Linked DNA regions of Homo sapiens. The protein of the gene in region 1 interacts with the protein of each later gene in a pairwise test. Each region holds a gene or a part of one and is shown in the gene's direction. Other genes may lie near its edges. The genes, in order: PTCH1 and HIBADH.

Region 1 (9,036 bases):
GCAGCTGGAATCCCAGCGCTCTCCTCTCAGCCGGGGTTGTTCCCGCCCAGAAATATCAGGGTTCCTCTTTCAAGCACTTAAAAGGGCTTCCCATTTTCTAGGATGGGATGGATTAACCTGATAAAGGCCTCACCAAGGTCAAATAAATGAGCAGACACTGTATATGCTAAGCCGTCAGAAATCTAATTGGCCTGTTTATGCTTCAGCTAGATGGATGGGATGCAAATGTCTTAATGTGGCTGCTGATACATGCCCCAGCCGAAAGTTCCAGCAGTTTACATTAGACCAAGACATTGGCTGCTTGGTTTTTACTAATGTAGTTCAGAAGTTTCTAGTGTTTACAATAGCTGTGAGGTATTTGTATTTTTATGGGGATTCTCTCTCCTTTCATCTGATGTCAAAACATATATAGACATGGCAGCACTGGTTGCCTGTTCCATTTTATGAACCAGAGGACCATTAACAGATAGATATCTTGCCCCCCCCTTCCCAGAACATCCTGAGCCTCTCCCCTACCCCAGCCCACTTCCATCAGAGTTGCCCTAGAAATCATTAGTTCCAGAAACGCATCCCTGCGTGGAGTCTGTGCCCTCCAGCCATGCAGAGTGTCTGCCAGAGGCTGTCCCTGGCTGACAGGTTTACCTTGGTATTCATGAAGGATTCCAGACCTTAGCCCTCAATGGTGGGAAAGCAGAACTACTTCTGCACTCTCCTCCTCTGCCATGGTGCTGCGGCCTTTATGTTTGAATTGGCTGACGCAAAACAAGAGTATTCAGAGATGCTAAATTGTTCAACAAAAGATTGGCCCGCAGAGCAGCCCCGCCATTGTGGAGTGCCCTCACCCAGCACAATGCCCCAGCTCCCACAGAATGGGCAGCATTTTCTTTGCAGAAAGCTGGTTCCTGTGTTCTAAAAAGGTTGCAATTGGAGCTATTTGGTAAAACTGGAACTCACAGAATTCTAGGCAGAAAGTTGTGATTAATGAAAGGCCAGGGAAAGCCTTACCTGATATGCTAGAGACTTAATTAGAGATTCTGCCGTAAGATGCAGAAGCATTTCACAGTGGATTAGCAGCCTGCAGAAGTGGGCTGCTTTTCCTCCTGGGCTAAATTGTTTAAATTCTACACCCTTCACTTCATTTGTTTGCTTCTGCTGGGTTTTCACGAGCGGGGCCCCTCGGCATTGTGTTTGTGCTTTCAGTCTGCCCAGCCATTCAGGTCGCATTCCATATTTTTGTGTTTGTGTAACACATTCATAAATAACATTACATGCCATCAGAGTTCAGCAAATTAACAAACTAATTTTTTTTTTCTTCCCTTCATGAACTAACACTTTGGGTTGTGGAATGTAGTCCTCAAAGTCATAAGGTAAAGAAACAAAAAGCAAAAACTCACCTTGTGTTGAATGTGAACTGCGGTTGGATAACAGCCTTTTCAGTGGGGTGGGTTTTGTTCATTTCTGGCGTTGCCATGCTGCTGTGTCGGGCACACGGAGGGTGGCGCGATCCACCCTGTCACAGCGCGTGTTCCCGTTTCCTCTTGATCTCCCAGGTATTTCTTTGCTGTGCTGGCGATCCTCACCATCCTCGGCGTTCTCAATGGGCTGGTTTTGCTTCCCGTGCTTTTGTCTTTCTTTGGACCATATCCTGAGGTCAGTAGTGACACGGGGATGTCCCACGTGTAGGCCGGCTGAATGCTGTGTTTCCTGTGCCGCTCTTCACTTCGATACTTAGGTGCCTCCCCACTTGCTGGTGGTTCTTCAGTAAACATCTCAGAGTCATGTCTGTTTTCCTCTTCGGTGTACTGGCTTTGAGGGCTAGAGGGCGGGTTCGGTTTGGTTCCTCTAAATCAACTGATTGGCAGCCTGGGTCTTACAGATCTTTATACAGTAAATGAAGACTTTCCCCTTGAGATGCATAATTGGACTTCACAAGAGTAAAAAGTACACATCCTGCCTTTCCAGTGTGGAGCAGAGGACAGTTCTTCTGCTCCAGCTGCGGGACCTGAAGGTCCTCCAGGTGGTAGAGAAGGGGAGGTTAATACGGCACAGTGCGCAGGGCCCCAGGGCAGGGAACAGAGGCCCCTGAAAAATACCGTGCTTTGAGCTTTGAGTGTGGCCAGCAGGTAAATGGACAAGAACACTTTTAACATGGAATCCCCTTAAATAGGTGTCTCCAGCCAACGGCTTGAACCGCCTGCCCACACCCTCCCCTGAGCCACCCCCCAGCGTGGTCCGCTTCGCCATGCCGCCCGGCCACACGCACAGCGGGTCTGATTCCTCCGACTCGGAGTATAGTTCCCAGACGACAGTGTCAGGCCTCAGCGAGGAGCTTCGGCACTACGAGGCCCAGCAGGGCGCGGGAGGCCCTGCCCACCAAGTGATCGTGGAAGCCACAGAAAACCCCGTCTTCGCCCACTCCACTGTAAGTGACTCTGCAGAACCAGGGGGAGGGGTCTTCCCACCGTGGTAGTGGGCCTGGAGGTCCAGCGGGGGCTCCTGTCTGCTGAGCAGCACATCACACAGGCAGATGGGATGCAGAGATAAGGTACAGACTAGGTCAAATCATAGGAAATAACCAGTATTTAACTCTTTCTCAACTATACAAATGCCATCTTCCTGTGGTTTGATCTCATAAAGGATAAAAAGGGCAGGGGCCAGTAATGTCACTGCACAAAGCAGTAGCATCTATCTTGTTCAGGGTGAGGACAGTTTGGGCTTCAAAGGCCAGAGATAAAGCATTCCTGCCTTTTTTTTTTTTTTCCTCTTAAGGTGCATGTCATTTGAGAGTGATATTTTCTAAAACTAGTAGTATTTTTATTGCCAACAGAGGTCAGGTTTTTTCCTTCTCTCATTTCTGTTAGGTTTCAATGCCCTTGATACAACATTCATTATTATTGTCTAAATACTTTACCATAGCTTTTGGGGCTCCAAGCTCATGTTCCAGGTGGCAGGAAAGAGCAGAGAGGCCAAGAACCACCCCTGAGTTCTTAGCCTTCAGTGATTCAGGAGGTCACCAGGAGCCTGGGAGCCCCTCCTCGGAGGCTCCAAGGACCTGGGTCCTTTCCTCCACCCTGTGCTCCCTGGGATGGGCTCAGCCCTGAAAACTCAAGGAAGGTTCTGGGCTGATGTTGCTCCACTGAGGGCCCCCTGCTGTCCCTCCAGGAAATGGGTATTCCAGTCCCAGGCCAGAGCAGCCCTTCCGTGAAAGAGAGAAAGGCCAACCAAATAACCTGAATTGTCCTCCTCCTACCCCCCGCGACGACGCCCGCTGAGCTGCAGTGTGAATCTGGTTTTGTTCAGCAGGAGCCTAAAAATAGGTACAAGCTGAACGACTTTGAAGTTGGTCACGGTCCTTTTGATTGATGTGGCCACTGTGTTGCTCTGTGCTTTGTATAGAGACGCAGAGACCAGATTCTTAACAATCAGATGGAACAGGCTGCCCGCCACAGCCCTCCGCAGTGACGAAAATGCCCTCTCTGCTTTCCAGGATGGGAGCCACCGGCCACACGTGGCTGTGGAGCACTTGAAATGTGGCCGGGGCTACCGAGGAGCTGGATTTTGGATTTTAGTTCATTAAAACTTAAGCAACCACATGTCTGGAGCGGCTACTGTGTTTGACAGAGTAGGCAGAGACAGTCCTGCCAGCGTCCTGCACTCAGGCCAGCCAGGGCCGCACACTTAGCAACTTCGGGAGAGGGGCAGCTCAGAGCCTGCAGAACCTAACAGGGTCGGGGGCAGGTTGTGGGGGGCAGCAGCTTGGATGCTCTGACCACAGCCCACATTTATGGGCAGCAGCAGTACGTGTCCAGCCAGCCGTGTCAGAGAAAGCCTGGAAACAGGATTTTCAAACAACACGCTCCTCCGCCAGGTCCTGGAGGTTATTAGAAGGACAGGCTTTTCTTTTGTGGGTGGAAGGCCCCCATTGGCTCCCCAGGGTTGACTGAGTCTTTGGTGAAACCCAAGGAGGGAAGTGTGGGAGCTGCGGGGACCATGCCCAGCCTGGGATACCACCCTTCTAACCCACCCTCACCCTCTGCAGGTGGTCCATCCCGAATCCAGGCATCACCCACCCTCGAACCCGAGACAGCAGCCCCACCTGGACTCAGGGTCCCTGCCTCCCGGACGGCAAGGCCAGCAGCCCCGCAGGGACCCCCCCAGAGAAGGCTTGTGGCCACCCCCCTACAGACCGCGCAGAGACGCTTTTGAAATTTCTACTGAAGGGCATTCTGGCCCTAGCAATAGGGCCCGCTGGGGCCCTCGCGGGGCCCGTTCTCACAACCCTCGGAACCCAGCGTCCACTGCCATGGGCAGCTCCGTGCCCGGCTACTGCCAGCCCATCACCACTGTGACGGCTTCTGCCTCCGTGACTGTCGCCGTGCACCCGCCGCCTGTCCCTGGGCCTGGGCGGAACCCCCGAGGGGGACTCTGCCCAGGCTACCCTGAGACTGACCACGGCCTGTTTGAGGACCCCCACGTGCCTTTCCACGTCCGGTGTGAGAGGAGGGATTCGAAGGTGGAAGTCATTGAGCTGCAGGACGTGGAATGCGAGGAGAGGCCCCGGGGAAGCAGCTCCAACTGAGGTGAGTGCCACTGACAAGGGCAGCCAAGGGACCTAGAGCCAGGCAAAGAGGAGGACAAGGTTCTCCTGGGGTTCTCGGCATCCCCGAGGGGCTGTGGCGCTCGGGCACATCCCACGCTGGACCCCAGTGACCTTTTATCCCCAGAGCAAGGCTGATGTGTCCAAGCTTTGTCATCCTTGGGGAACCAGTCCAGCTCCACACTGCTCTCTTCCCCCACTGCTAACCTGCGGAGGGTCGGTGCAGCGCCACAAGGACACAAACAGCACCACCTTTTACCAATATTTGCCAGTCTTTATGGAGGTGCATGCCACAGCGAATTGGTCACATGGGAACGCATCCGTGTAACCAGCCCCCAGATGAAGGGAGAGGTCACAAGCAGCCCCCAGGGACACCTCAGGCCCACACCCCACTCTCGTGATTTCTAATACCAAGGTTACTGCTGCCTGCTTTTGTACTTTATAAATACGGACTTGCACACCTCTTACTCTGTTCAACTTCCTTTTTTGCTTCCTTTTAAAGGGTGATTAAAATCTGAAGCAAAGAGGCCAAAGATTGGAAACCCCCCACCCCCACCTCTTTCCAGAACTGCTTGAAGAGAACTGGTTGGAGTTATGGAAAAGATGCCCTGTGCCAGGACAGCAGTTCATTGTTACTGTAACCGATTGTATTATTTTGTTAAATATTTCTATAAATATTTAAGAGATGTACACATGTGTAATATAGGAAGGAAGGATGTAAAGTGGTATGATCTGGGGCTTCTCCACTCCTGCCCCAGAGTGTGGAGGCCACAGTGGGGCCTCTCCGTATTTGTGCATTGGGCTCCGTGCCACAACCAAGCTTCATTAGTCTTAAATTTCAGCATATGTTGCTGCTGCTTAAATATTGTATAATTTACTTGTATAATTCTATGCAAATATTGCTTATGTAATAGGATTATTTTGTAAAGGTTTCTGTTTAAAATATTTTAAATTTGCATATCACAACCCTGTGGTAGTATGAAATGTTACTGTTAACTTTCAAACACGCTATGCGTGATAATTTTTTTGTTTAATGAGCAGATATGAAGAAAGCACGTTAATCCTGGTGGCTTCTCTAGGTGTCGTTGTGTGCGGTCCTCTTGTTTGGCTGTGCGTGTGAACACGTGTGTGAGTTCACCATGTACTGTACTGTGATTTTTTTTTTGTCTTGTTTTGTTTCTCTACACTGTCTGTAACCTGTAGTAGGCTCTGACCTAGTCAGGCTGGAAGCGTCAGGATATCTTTTCTTCGTGCTGGTGAGGGCTGGCCCTAAACATCCACCTAATCCTTTCAAATCAGCCCGGCAAAAGCTAGACTCTCCTCGTGTCTACGGCATCTCTTATGATCATTGGCTGCCATCCAGGACCCCAATTTGTGCTTCAGGGGGATAATCTCCTTCTCTCGGATCATTGTGATGGATGCTGGAACCTCAGGGTATGGAGCTCACATCAGTTCATCATGGTGGGTGTTAGAGAATTCGGTGACATGCCTAGTGCTGAGCCTTGGCTGGGCCATGAGAGTCTGTATACTCTAAAAAGCATGCAGCATGGTGCCCCTCTTCTGACCAACACACACACGACCCCTCCCCCAACACCCCCAAATTCAAGAGTGGATGTGGCCCTGTCACAGGTAGAAAAACCTATTTAGTTAATTCTTTCTTGGCCCACAGTCTCCCAGAAATGATGTTTTGAGTCCCTATAGTTTAAACTCCCTCTCTTAAATGGAGCAGCTGGTTGAGGCTTTCTAGATCTGTTTGCATCTTCTTTAAAACTAAGTGGTGAGCATGCATTGTGGTGTAGAGGCAGGCATTATGTAGGATAAGAGCTCCGGGGGGATTCTTCATGCACCAGTGTTTAGGGTACGTGCTTCCTAAGTAAATCCAAACATTGTCTCCATCCTCCCCGTCATTAGTGCTCTTTCAATGTGATGTGGGAAAGCAGGAGGATGGACACACCCCACTGAAAGATGTAGGCAGGGGCAGGTCTCTCAACCAGGCATATTTTTAAAAGTTGCTTCTGTACTGGTTCTCTTCTTTTGCTCTGAGGTGTGGGCTCCCTCATCTCGTAACCAGAGACCAGCACATGTCAGGGAAGCACCCAGTGTCGGCTCCCCATCCAAATCCACACCAGCACCTTGTTACAGACAAGAAGTCAGAGGAAAGGGCGGGGTCCCTGCAGGGCTGAAGCCTAAGCTACTGTGAGGCGCTCACGAGTGGCAGCTCCTGTTACTCCCTTTTAAATTACCTGGGAAATCTTAACAGAAAGGTAATGGGCCCCCAGAAATACCCACAGCATAGTGACCTCAGACCCTGATACTCACCACAAAACTTTTAAGATGCTGATTGGGAGCCGCTTGTGGCTGCTGGGTGTGTGTGTGTGTGTGTGCGTGCGTGCGTGTGTGTGTGTCTCTGCTGGGGACCCTGGCCACCCCCCTGCTGCTGTCTTGGTGCCTGTCACCCACATGGTCTGCCATCCTAACACCCAGCTCTGCTCAGAAAACGTCCTGCGTGGAGGAGGGATGATGCAGAATTCTGAAGTCGACTTCCCTCTGGCTCCTGGCGTGCCCTCGCTCCCTTCCTGAGCCCAGCTCGTGTTGCGCCGGAGGCTGCGCGGCCCCTGATTTCTGCATGGTGTAGAACTTTCTCCAATAGTCACATTGGCAAAGGGAGAACTGGGGTGGGCGGGGGGTGGGGCTGGCAGGGAATTAGAATTTCTCTCTCTCTTTTAATAGTTTTATTTTGTCTGTCCTGTTTGTTCATTTGGATGTTTTAATTTTTAAAAAAAAAAAAACTTTGCTGATATTTATAATTTTGTATCATAAGAATGTTTTCCTCTACAGTATTTGTCATGCCAGTTTATAACAAAAAAAAATGCAGGGATTTTATTTCTATTGGAAACATTACAGCTATGTTTTACTTTTGGACAGAATTTTTATTTGTATAGAGTGCTTACTAATGTTAAATAGTTCAGAGTATATAACATTTACATTAAGGACTCATGGTAGGTTTTAGGGTAAGGAGTTTAAAGGAAATAAATATTCAAACTGGGTCTCATTGCCAATTTTGGTGGAAATGAGTTTGTGTCATTTCAATTACAAAGATAAAAGTATGCCATATAATTTATTTATATGAAGATTTATTTTTGTAGTGTACATAGTAGTCATCAAGTCTTTTGACAGAAGTATATTTTTAAAGAATTTATATGTGATGAATCCATAATGTCTGGAACTTTGCTGAGACATGAGTGGGCACAGTTTTCATTGTAAATTACAGCAAGGAAAGAAAATGTTTAACAGTGTTAAGAGAGTCAGAGCAGAGTGGATATTCATGCGATTATGAAGTGTTTATTAGTTACCATTGGCGACCTAGCATGCTTCTCATTTCAAACCTTGGAAGGTGAAAATGTACAAACTCTCTAAATAATTAATGTTCAAACACTGATAGAAATTCTAACATGAATAAAAAATAATATAACTTGTTGGTTATATCTTTGTTTGTAGAATGCTTTTTTTCTTTAAAATACTTGGGAGAGACAGTTAGTGTTGGAGCCATCAGAAACTGTTGTTTCATCTTGCTGACCTTGTGACACTCTTCTTTTTTGCTCTATCTGATGGAGAGAGTTTTAGGTTTTCCTCCTTTTTGTTTTGTATAAATAGTGGGTATAAGCATAGCTCTGTTACATGGATGTATTACAAAGTGGGGGCTGAGCTTTTAGTGTGATCATCACCCAAATAGTGTACATTGTACCCATTAATTAATTTCTTATCACCTGACCCTATTTTTGTTTTCTCATACCAAGAAACTTCCTAAGTTAACCATCAAAATTAGTCCTTCTGTCATCTCTCTTAGCATACTTATTTCCCTTATGTGATGCCTAATAATGAGGGAACATAAATAAAGCCAAATTCAAAGATGATTATCATCAGTGAAGGTGTCATACTTCTAAACAGTGTCAAAGATAATATGGAATTGATTGAACCTGATACAGAACAGTTTTTGAGTGTTTCCTGGTAAGCAATGATTTCATCATAGGCATGGAGAAAAATATGGCCAGGAATATCATGTCCATGTTACAGCTGTGTAAGCAAGGAGTGGTGGGGCTGAACTCAAGGCCCACACTGCTGTGCACATGGGCAAGTTGCAGAGGGGTCAGTGAGCCACAGCCGGCTGGCCATGTCCTGTTGCACAGGTTCATGAGGAGAGAGTCGTGCCTGTTGCCGCACATGTTGTTGATGGCTGTTTTTCTGCTGCAACGGCAGAGTTCAGTAGCTGCAACACAGACTATGGTCTGCAGAGACTATGATATTTACTATCTGGCCGTAAGACACCTGCCAATCCATCTCTAGACAAGGTAACATAGGCCAGTGCTAGTCAAGTGTGGTCCACGAATCAGCCTGCCTTGGAAGCTTGCTAGAAAAACCGAATCCAACACCACCTAACT
Region 2 (9,241 bases), on another chromosome or scaffold:
GATCATGAAGTAATTATGAGGTTAGAAAATCATTTTAGACAGTAAAACAAAATGAGAAGTTTGGAATTTTGACAACTCAGAGCTGTCAAACTGGCCCTGGTTCTGCCTACATCCACACTACTTTTATGAGAGGAAAAACCAAATTGTTATCATTTGGACTTTGTTTTATCCAACCAAACCTGATGCTGATAGTTTTTGAAAGTGACTTTAAATGTAGTTTCTTAATCAAACTGGATTGTTTTTATGACTGCTTATATATTATTCAGAAAAAGACTTCTTGAGGAAAGTCACTTTGAGTTGAGTCCTAACAAGTGGGGAGTGTAGAAGCAGTATTAGAATGTGTGGAAAAGAGAAAGGAAGGAAAGAAGAAAAGCAGAGAACCTGAGGAACTCAGAGTGCTCTGGGAAAGGGAAAGAGTACTGCATTGTCAGGGAGGTGAGTACAGAGAGAATGATATCTTAGGAATAGGCGTAAAAATGATTAGATAGTGTGGGTATTGTTGGGAAAGTCTTATTCCTCTTCTTCCCAGATTCTGAGATTCTGATGACAGGAATGTTAGATTTTTTTTTTTTGAGACGGAGTTTCACTCTTGTTGTCCAGGCTGGAGTGCAGTAACGCGATCTCGGCTCACTGCAACCTCCTGCTCCCAGGTTCAATCGATTCTCCTGCCTCAGCCTCCTGAGTAGCTGGGATTACAGGCGCCCACCACCATGCCCAGCTGATTTTTGTATTTTAGGTAGACACGAGGTTTCACCATGTTGGCCAGGCTGGTCTTGAACTCCTGACCTCAGGTGATCCACCTGCTTGGGCCTCCCAAAGTGGGATTACAGGCGTGGGCCACCACACCCAGCTGAATGTTAGATCTTTTGTTAAGAGTCACAACACATGCCCCTGAGCTTCGTGGCTTTTTTTTTTTGAGACGGAGTCTCGCTCTGTCGCCCAGGCTGGAGTGCAGTGGCACAATCTCGGCTCACTGCAAGCTCCACCTCCTGGGTTCACGCCATTCTCCTGCCTCAGCCTCCCGAGTAGCTGGGACTACAGGCGCCCGCCACCACACCTGGCTAATTTTTTTGTATTTTTAGTAGAGACGGGGTTTCACCGTATTAGCCAGGATGGTCCCGATCTCCTGACCACGTGATCCGCCCGCCTTGGCCTCCCAAAGTGCTGGGATTACAGGCTTGAGCCACCTCGCCCAGCGCTTCGTAGCTTTTTAAATCCCAGTCTAGTTTCTCTCTGTTTAGATTAGATAGTTTCTACTGTTCTATCTTCTAGCTCAGTGATTCTTTTCTTTATTCTGCTGTTGAGTTAAAAAATTGTATTTCTTGCATTTTTTCAGTTTTAAAATTTCCATTTATTTCTTCTTTATATGTTGTTTCTTTGCTGAGATTTCTTTTTATTTAATTCAAGCATGTTTTATTGTTTTATTTTACTTTTTGAGAAGGAGTCTCACTCTGCCATCCAGGCTGGAGTGCAGTGGCGTGATAGCTCACTGCAACCTCCGCCTCCTGGGTTCAAGTGATTCTCCTGCCTCAGCCTCCTGAGTTGCTGGGATTACAGGTGCCCACCACCACACCTGGGTAATTTTTGTATTTTTTTGGAAGAGATGGGGTTTTACCATGTTGGCCAGGCTGATCTTGAACTCCTCACCTCAAGTGATCTGCCAGCCTCGGCCTCCCAAAGTGCTAAGATTACAGGTGTGAGCCACCATGCCTGGCCTCAAGCATGTTTTAATTGCTTCTTGAAATATTTTCTGATGGATGCTTTCAAATCTTTGTTAGATAATTTTAACTTGTCATCTCAGTGTTGGCATCTATTGTCTTTTTTATTCAGCTTGAAATCTTCCTGGGTTTTGGAATCATGAGTCATTTTTTAATTGAAATTTGGTATCATGAGTGATTTTTTGTTGAAATCTGGACATTTGGGTATTATGATATTTTGGATATTATTTAAACCTTTTATTTTAACTAGTTTTTCTTGACACTGCTCTGGCAGGGGGCATCAACTTGTAAATGGCAACTGGTAGTAGAAGTCTAGGTTCCTTATTCCACCTCTGTTGACACCAAGGGTGGGTGGTTCCTTGTTACTGCTGGGCAATGGTGGGAGTTTCAGCTCCCCACTAGTTGTCCACTGATACTTCCCTAGTTGAGAGGGCTTGGAATGGCTCCTTACTGCCCCCATGTAGCCTCCAGTGACACCATGGAGGGGAAGGGGTGTGACATCCTTACCATTGGGCAGTGATGAAAGCTCTGACTCTCCAATACACCTCCAATTACACCATCTAAGCAGGGAAAGGGAGGGGTACCTCACCACTGTAAGGTAGGAGTGGAAATCCAGGGTCGCCCTGTGGTTTCCAGTGACACTGAGAGTAGGGAAGGATGTGTGTGGAGGATTACTTGTTACTGCCCAGTTGAAGATGAAAATCCCATACCTCTCTTTGGTTTTCTCTGACATCACCTTAGAGGGGTTGAGGAGTAGAGCGATTGGGGTGTTAGGATGCTGGGGTGTCTCATCACAACCTGGAGAGTGTGGAAGTCTAGGCTCCCAACTCAGCCTTTGCTTTATGGGGTGGGGTCAGTGTGTGTATGTATGTGTGTATTGTTTGTCTACAGTGGAGTGATTATCTTCTAAATGTTTCCTTTCTTGCTAGGCCACTCCTTTTTCATCACTTGGCTAGAAAGAGCAGCCTTTTATTGGGGCACTTTTTGTCTATCTATGCTTCCTGGCATTTTGGGGTTTCTGGTTTTGGCTTCTCCAGCACCCAGTTTGGGGTATATAAGGCTACATGAAAACCCAAGGAACTTCCCACCGTGTTGCTCTCTGGACCCTAGCCAGTGTGACTTCTCTCCACCTTTCAAAGTCTCCCTATGTTTATCTTATATATAATGTTGAGTTTTTAGTTGTACTTAGAAGAATAGGGAGAAACCTATCTACTCCATCTTCCTGGAAGCGGAAGTCAGGGGCCACTATAAGGCATTGAAACAATTACAAACAAAAATGCGTGGCAAAGACTCAGGGAGGAGTTGCAGTGCCTTTCAAACAAGGGCATCAGGAGGGCAATCAAATGAAGAAAGCTAACCAGCCATAGGCAGGAACTGCATTTGCCAGTACAATAATATCTGCAAGCACCTTCAAACAGTAAGAATTACTTAAAAATTCATAACGCTTCTTTAAAATCATGGAAACCTATGAAAATTCCTTAGTTTATGAATCAATGTAGGGCTTCTTGGAGGAGACATTGTTGGAGAAGACAATGCAGGGCTTCTTGGAGGAGACACAGTTGAAAGACCAATTGCAGTTCAGGAGTTAATTATAGAAACCTGTAGTGCTGGAGGAAGAAAAAGAAAAAGAAACCTGTAGGCCCACATTTGTTGCCTGCAGGAGATCTATTCCAGCTAAAACCTGACGAAACCAGGAAGAGAGGCACAGGTGGGAAATGCTCCAGAAACTAATTTACCCCTAGTAGGGGTGGGGACCCAAATCTAGGAGAAGGTCTAATTGTTGAAATGAGTTTTTTCTCCCTCCCTCCCTTCGTCCCTTTCCTTCCTTCTTTTCATTTAGTGTTGGGTAGAGGGTTGGGGTGGAGTGATGGTCAAAGAAGGGCATTAACTTCCTCCCAGTTACAGATAGGGACCTTGCACTCTGTACAAGTTTTTAAGTTTTTGGAAACGTTGCCAGCATGCCCAGAAACATGAAAAGAGCCCAGATGGAAATGATCCAATTCCTTTGCTTTCAACTCCATGGGTTACTGAGTTGAAAAAAAGGTCAAAGTCAAATTTTGTTGATTGTGCTACTTAGATTGGGGTTCGCATTTCCCTAGCTACTCCATACACATTCTCTTTCCTGCTGTATTGCCATTCTCCAAAGGCTATAGTCTTGCTTTGGTGTGGTCATGGCTTCCAACCCTTTGGTGGAGTCAGTGGAGATGAGAAGGCCTGCAATTACCCCCAAGGGGTTTACAGACTCAAATATGTACACTAAGCATTGACAGAAGAATGACTAAATGTCTGTCTCTCTGCACCGCGCAGTGGCTCACGCCTGTAATAACCAGCACTTTGGGAGGCCGAGGCGGGCGGATCACTTGACGCCAGGAGTTTGAGACCAGCCTAGGCAAAATGGCGACACCCCGCCTCTACTCAAAGTGCCAAAAAAATTAGCCGGGTGTGGTGGCGCACGCAGGCCTATAGTCCCACCTCACCTACTCCGGAGGCTGAAGCAGGAGAATCACTTGAACCCGGGAGGCGGAGATTGCAGTGAGCCGAGATCGCGCCACTGCACTCCAGCCTGGGTGACAGAGAGACTCCGTCTCCAAAAAAAAAAAAGGTCTTTCTAATACACATACATATACTACTACTTTCTGGATTTTATATTTAGTTTTGCTTACAAAATGGATTTAGGGTGTAGAATTTTCAAAGATTAGAGAAATATGCCTTGAAATAGAAAGTGCAAGTTTCTAGTAACTCTTCCCTTCAAAGATAATGTTACCAACTTCTTTTCCTACTATTTTTAGTATTGAGAAACTGTTGTGTTAAGTAAAATCAAATGAATTTAAAAGTTATTACACACATGGTAGCTTTCTGAGTGTTTTTCAAGCTGCGAGTCAGTTTTGTCCTTTTTAACACGCAGCGGTTGTGGGGACAAGGTTTCCGAGGAGGCGGGAGCGAGCGACGGCCCCCGCCTCCCACACGCCCTCTGCTTTGGTAAACAAGGAGACTCCCGCCCGCAGGCTGTAAATGAGGCACGAGCTTGGGGGCAGCGCCAGGGCGCCTGGCGTCACTGTTCAAAAAGGCCTCTTATTGGTCCTTCGCACAGCTGCGGACCTGGGAATTCTGATTGGTCTGCTTCCCTGTCCGTAAAGGGATTGACAGGCCCTGCCGCGTCAGGCCGCTCCTCTCGGCTCCGCGCTCCTTCCCTCGCGCGTGGGCACCCGCCCCCGAGCGGTGAGAGCGCGTGCGCGCGCGCCCTTCTCCGTGGGCGAGCCAGCCAGTCCCGCTGCACACGCTCGCAGTCTGTGGGCCCTCCGGGAGGCGGCGGAGGTCACCGCGGGGAGAGGGGCGGGCGCAGCATGGCAGCCTCCTTACGGCTCCTCGGAGCTGCCTCCGGTCTCCGGTACTGGAGCCGGCGGCTGCGGCCGGCAGCCGGCAGCTTTGCAGCGGGTAAGGACCTCACGCCTCCTCCCCCTTGTCCTTCTTTCGGCCGCTCGCTTCTTCTGTCCAGACGGCCGAAGAAGTCTTTTCTCGGGAGGCCCTGCGGTTGGGCTGGGGCTTAAAAAACAATATTTTGGCTGGTACTAAAGGCCTGTCCTTTTCTGCGGCCGCCACTCACTCCGCGAGTACCCCCCTCTGCCTTCCCTCCCTTTCTCCCGGGCTCCTGATGAACGGGTTCAGCGCCCTTTTCGGGATTTAGGAAGAGGTGGGGAAGAGCTTGGGCTGAAGAGAAGAGAGTATTTGGGACCCCGGCATGCTGCTTTGGAGTTAGGACTCCGAGGACGTTTGGAGCGCCCAACTCCAGGAGCAACCCGCACTCACCCCAGCGACCCCTGGTCTTTCAGCGCCCCCAGGGTGCACCTTGGGTTGGGGACACACTTGGGCAGCAGGGCCTGATGTTTAACCACCTGAGTCCGAGGGGATGGCCTTATTACACAAGCGGTGGCTGTACAAGCCAGGCAGTAAGTCTTTCAGCAAAGTTTCAGTCACCCTTGACCAGCAAGACGGGCTTCCCCCCTCTACTGTAACCTAAAAAAATGTCATTTTTGTCAAATTATGAACCAAAACACGTTCAGCGTCCTCAAGATTGTGGGCAGAATTAATCCTGCCTCCCTCCTCTCATACCATGGTAAATTGTGGAAGCTAGCCATGAACTTACAAAGAGGCAGTTTTTAGAGCCAGGATGAAGATCCACGGAGATCTAATACAGTCTTTCATACTCCGCACGAGGGACATGAGGCCCCTTGGATGAGTGAATCAGGATATTCCCAGCAAGACCTAGAAAGTTGTTATCAGTTGTTCCTAATTCCTTAACTTTCTATCACACCAGGACTCCTCTTTAATTGAAAAATTGGTTGATTTGTGGGGGCACTGCCGTTGTCTTCCTCAAACTGAAAGTTTGAGAGTTGTAACAATGCATCGTTTAGCAAGATCATACTGAGGATTAATAACAAAAAAAACCTTGGCATTAATTTTTTCTAATCTTTGCTTAAAAAAAAAATAGTGGGTTAGGATTTGAGCCCCTTGGCCCCCCGCCCTTTTTTTTTTTTTTTTTTTTTTTTGAGACAGGGTCTCTGTCGCCCAGGCTGGAGTGCAGTGGCCCAGTCACACTGCTCACTGCAGTCTCGACCTCCTGGGCTCAGGTGATCCTCCCACCTCAGCCTCCCGAGTAGCTGGGATTACAGGCATGTGCCACCACGCCCGTCCAATTTTTGTATTTTTAGTAGGGACGGAGTTTCGCCATGTTGCCCAGGCTGGTCTTGAACTCCTGCGCTCAAGTGATCCTCCCAAAGCGTTGGGATTATAGGCATGAACCACTGTGGCTGGCCAGGAATTGTAAGAACTTTCTCTTACAATTCTTAACAGCTTCCCATTCTCCCCCTCAGTGAAACCTCTGAATTTCCTTTCTGGCTGGAGAAGAACAGAGGCTCGGTGAGATGCAAGAGACCAGATGTCTGATACAGAACCACAGTAACAAGATAAAAACTCAGAATATGCCAAACTTGAATGTAACCACTGTTTGAGCTTCATATATTGAGCTACAAAAATGCTTCCGACTTTTGAGATAACCCTAAAAGAATAGACACTTTTCCACAGTAGCACCAGTTTTCACATGAATTCACAATTCTTTCAGTTCCCATTAGCCAAGGAAGACATATTTGCTGTTTAGTGGTTTTACAAGGTGTTCTAATGGTATTTTAATGAACCCTTGATGTACCTTTTAGAGTTATGAAAGTTCTTACCAATTCATGGTGAAAGAGCCTGAGGCCTAAGACTGTAATACGTGCCTCTGTAAACTGGGAGGGCCTACCTCAGAGTGCTGATTAGACTACTTTGGCATATGGTCTTGTACTTTGGGTTCTTTGGCCCAAAGGTAATTGTCAGAATATAGATTTCTGATAAATTTTAAATAGTTCTTTTGTGATGAAGTGGTTAAATCACTTAAGCAATTTTTTTTTCTCTTGAAAAAAATTTTTTTTTTTCCCTCGGAGTCTTTGTCTGTCGCCCAGGCTAGAGTGCATTGGCGCAATCTCAGCTCACTGCAAGCTCCGCCTCCCAGGTTCACGCCATTCTCCTGCCTCAGCCTCCGGAGTACCTGGGACTACAGGCGCCTGCCACCACGCCCGGCTAGTTTTTTGGTATTTTTTAGTAGAAACGGGGTTTCACCATGTTAGCCAGGATGGTCTCTATCACTTGACCTCGTGATCCGCCCGCCTTGGCCTCCCAGAGTGCTGGGATTACAGGCGTGAGCCACTGTGCCCGGCCTTTCTTTGGAATTGTTTTAAACATTTAAATTTCTGTTAATTTTAGTTTACTGCAAAAGTGTTAACTTTTCTGACATTAGATTCTTAAAGAGTAGAAAAAAATCTGCCTGCAAGTTTGGAGTCAAATGACATTAAGAAAAAGAACCATGTTCAGATAGTAATGTGTGATGTTCTGAATTCTGTTGGATATTTGTAGTATGTTTAAGATGTTTATATCATATGAATGATAATATTATAAGGAGCTATATAATTTACTGTTTAAAAAAATGAAACCTGAAAGTTGCCGGTTAGTAGCACATCTTTTTAACTTTTTTATAAATACATTTTAGAGACAGGTCTCCCCGTGTTGTCCAGGCAGGAGTACAATGGCACCTACTTAGCTCACTGCAACCTTGAACTCCTGTACTCAAGTGATCTTCCGCCTCAGCTTCCCAAGTAGTTAGGATTGCAGGGTGCACCACGATACCTAGCTAATTTAAAAAAAAATGTTTTTTGAGACAAGGCTAGTTGCCTACTACGCTGGTCTAGAACTACTGGCGTGAAGCCATCCTCTTGCCTTGACCTCCCAAAGTGTTGGGCTTACAGGCATTAGCCACTGTGCCCAGCCTGCCACATCTTAATTTTTAAATGTTTGTTTGTTTGTTTGTTTGTTTATTTGAGATGGGGTCTCTCTCTCTCTCTTGTCCAGGCTGGAGTGCAGTGGTGCAATCATGGCTCATTGCAGCCTCAACCTCGTGGGCTCAAGCAATCCCCCTGCCTCAGCCTCCCAAGTAGCTGGGACCACAGGTGCACACCACCACACCTGGCTTTATTTATTTATTTATTTTTTTTGTAGAGATGGGGTCTCACCATGTTGCCCAGCCTGGTCTTGAACTCTGGGGGTCAACTGATCCTCCTGCCTCAGCCTCCCAAAGTACTGGGATTACAGTCATGAGCCACTGTGCCTAAGCCTAATTTTAAAATACTTAAAGCATTGAAAAGGAAATAGAAGAATGAGAAATGTTAAAGTGTACATGTATTACTATTTCATCACCTGTTTGATAAAATTGTGTATGTTATTTTAGAAGGTAATTAAGTTTAGTTTCAGACTTATTTGTACAGAGAAGAAAATCTACAGCTATAGGCCCTCTACAAAATGTCACGTTGTGACTCTACAGCTTGTACATGGAAAAATAAATCACATCAGATCATCTTGAGGTGACCACCTGACCAAAGGTAGAATGGAAAAATTAGCATCATGTATAGAAACAGGAATACAATTTTTAATATTATTGGTCCTTTTTGTATATGTGAAATTTACTTTCAAAGTAGCATAACTCATTGGATAAATCAAATATATAATGGCAGTTTTTCCCTTTACATTAGCTTCTAGGGCTGCACATGAAGTTCTGAAAAGCTGCTCATGGTCCGGGGCCTAAAAGTTGACCCTAAACTTGTGAAATTACATAAGGAGCGTATTTATTACTAAAATAAGTTGACTGAAACCGTAAAGGCCTTTATAGAGAAAGTCGTCACCCTTAGTTTAGTAACTGTTAATAGTAAAGCAGATAGAGTGCTTATGACGTAGTATTATGTGATAAAATAGATATAAAAAATGTATTATGTGATAAAATAGACATACATTGTATAGAAAATATAACCTTATGATATAATGAAAAATGCAGTCAAAAGACTGAAAGTCCATGCAAAATGTTTTTTTTATTTTTGTGTAATGAGATTGCTTCCCCTTACAACTGTATACTTTTTCATTCTAGTTTTCTACAATGAAAATGC

What was found.
Region 2: the proteins of PTCH1 (region 1) and HIBADH interact in binary tests that used the Homo sapiens proteins (3 or more experiments, as listed by UniProt).

What each region holds. Positions count from the first base shown.
Region 1 is NC_000009.12:95,442,455-95,451,490, reverse strand, and holds the end of PTCH1 (protein patched homolog 1), read left to right. Parts: intron 1-1,550; coding exon 1,551-1,650; intron 1,651-2,167; coding exon 2,168-2,422; intron 2,423-4,039; coding exon 4,040-4,579; 3' UTR 4,580-4,580; intron 4,581-5,099; 3' UTR 5,100-8,511; downstream 8,512-9,036.
Region 2 is NC_000007.14:27,658,610-27,667,850, reverse strand, and holds the start of HIBADH (3-hydroxyisobutyrate dehydrogenase, mitochondrial isoform 1 precursor), read left to right. Parts: upstream 1-4,967; 5' UTR 4,968-5,062; coding exon 5,063-5,153; intron 5,154-9,241.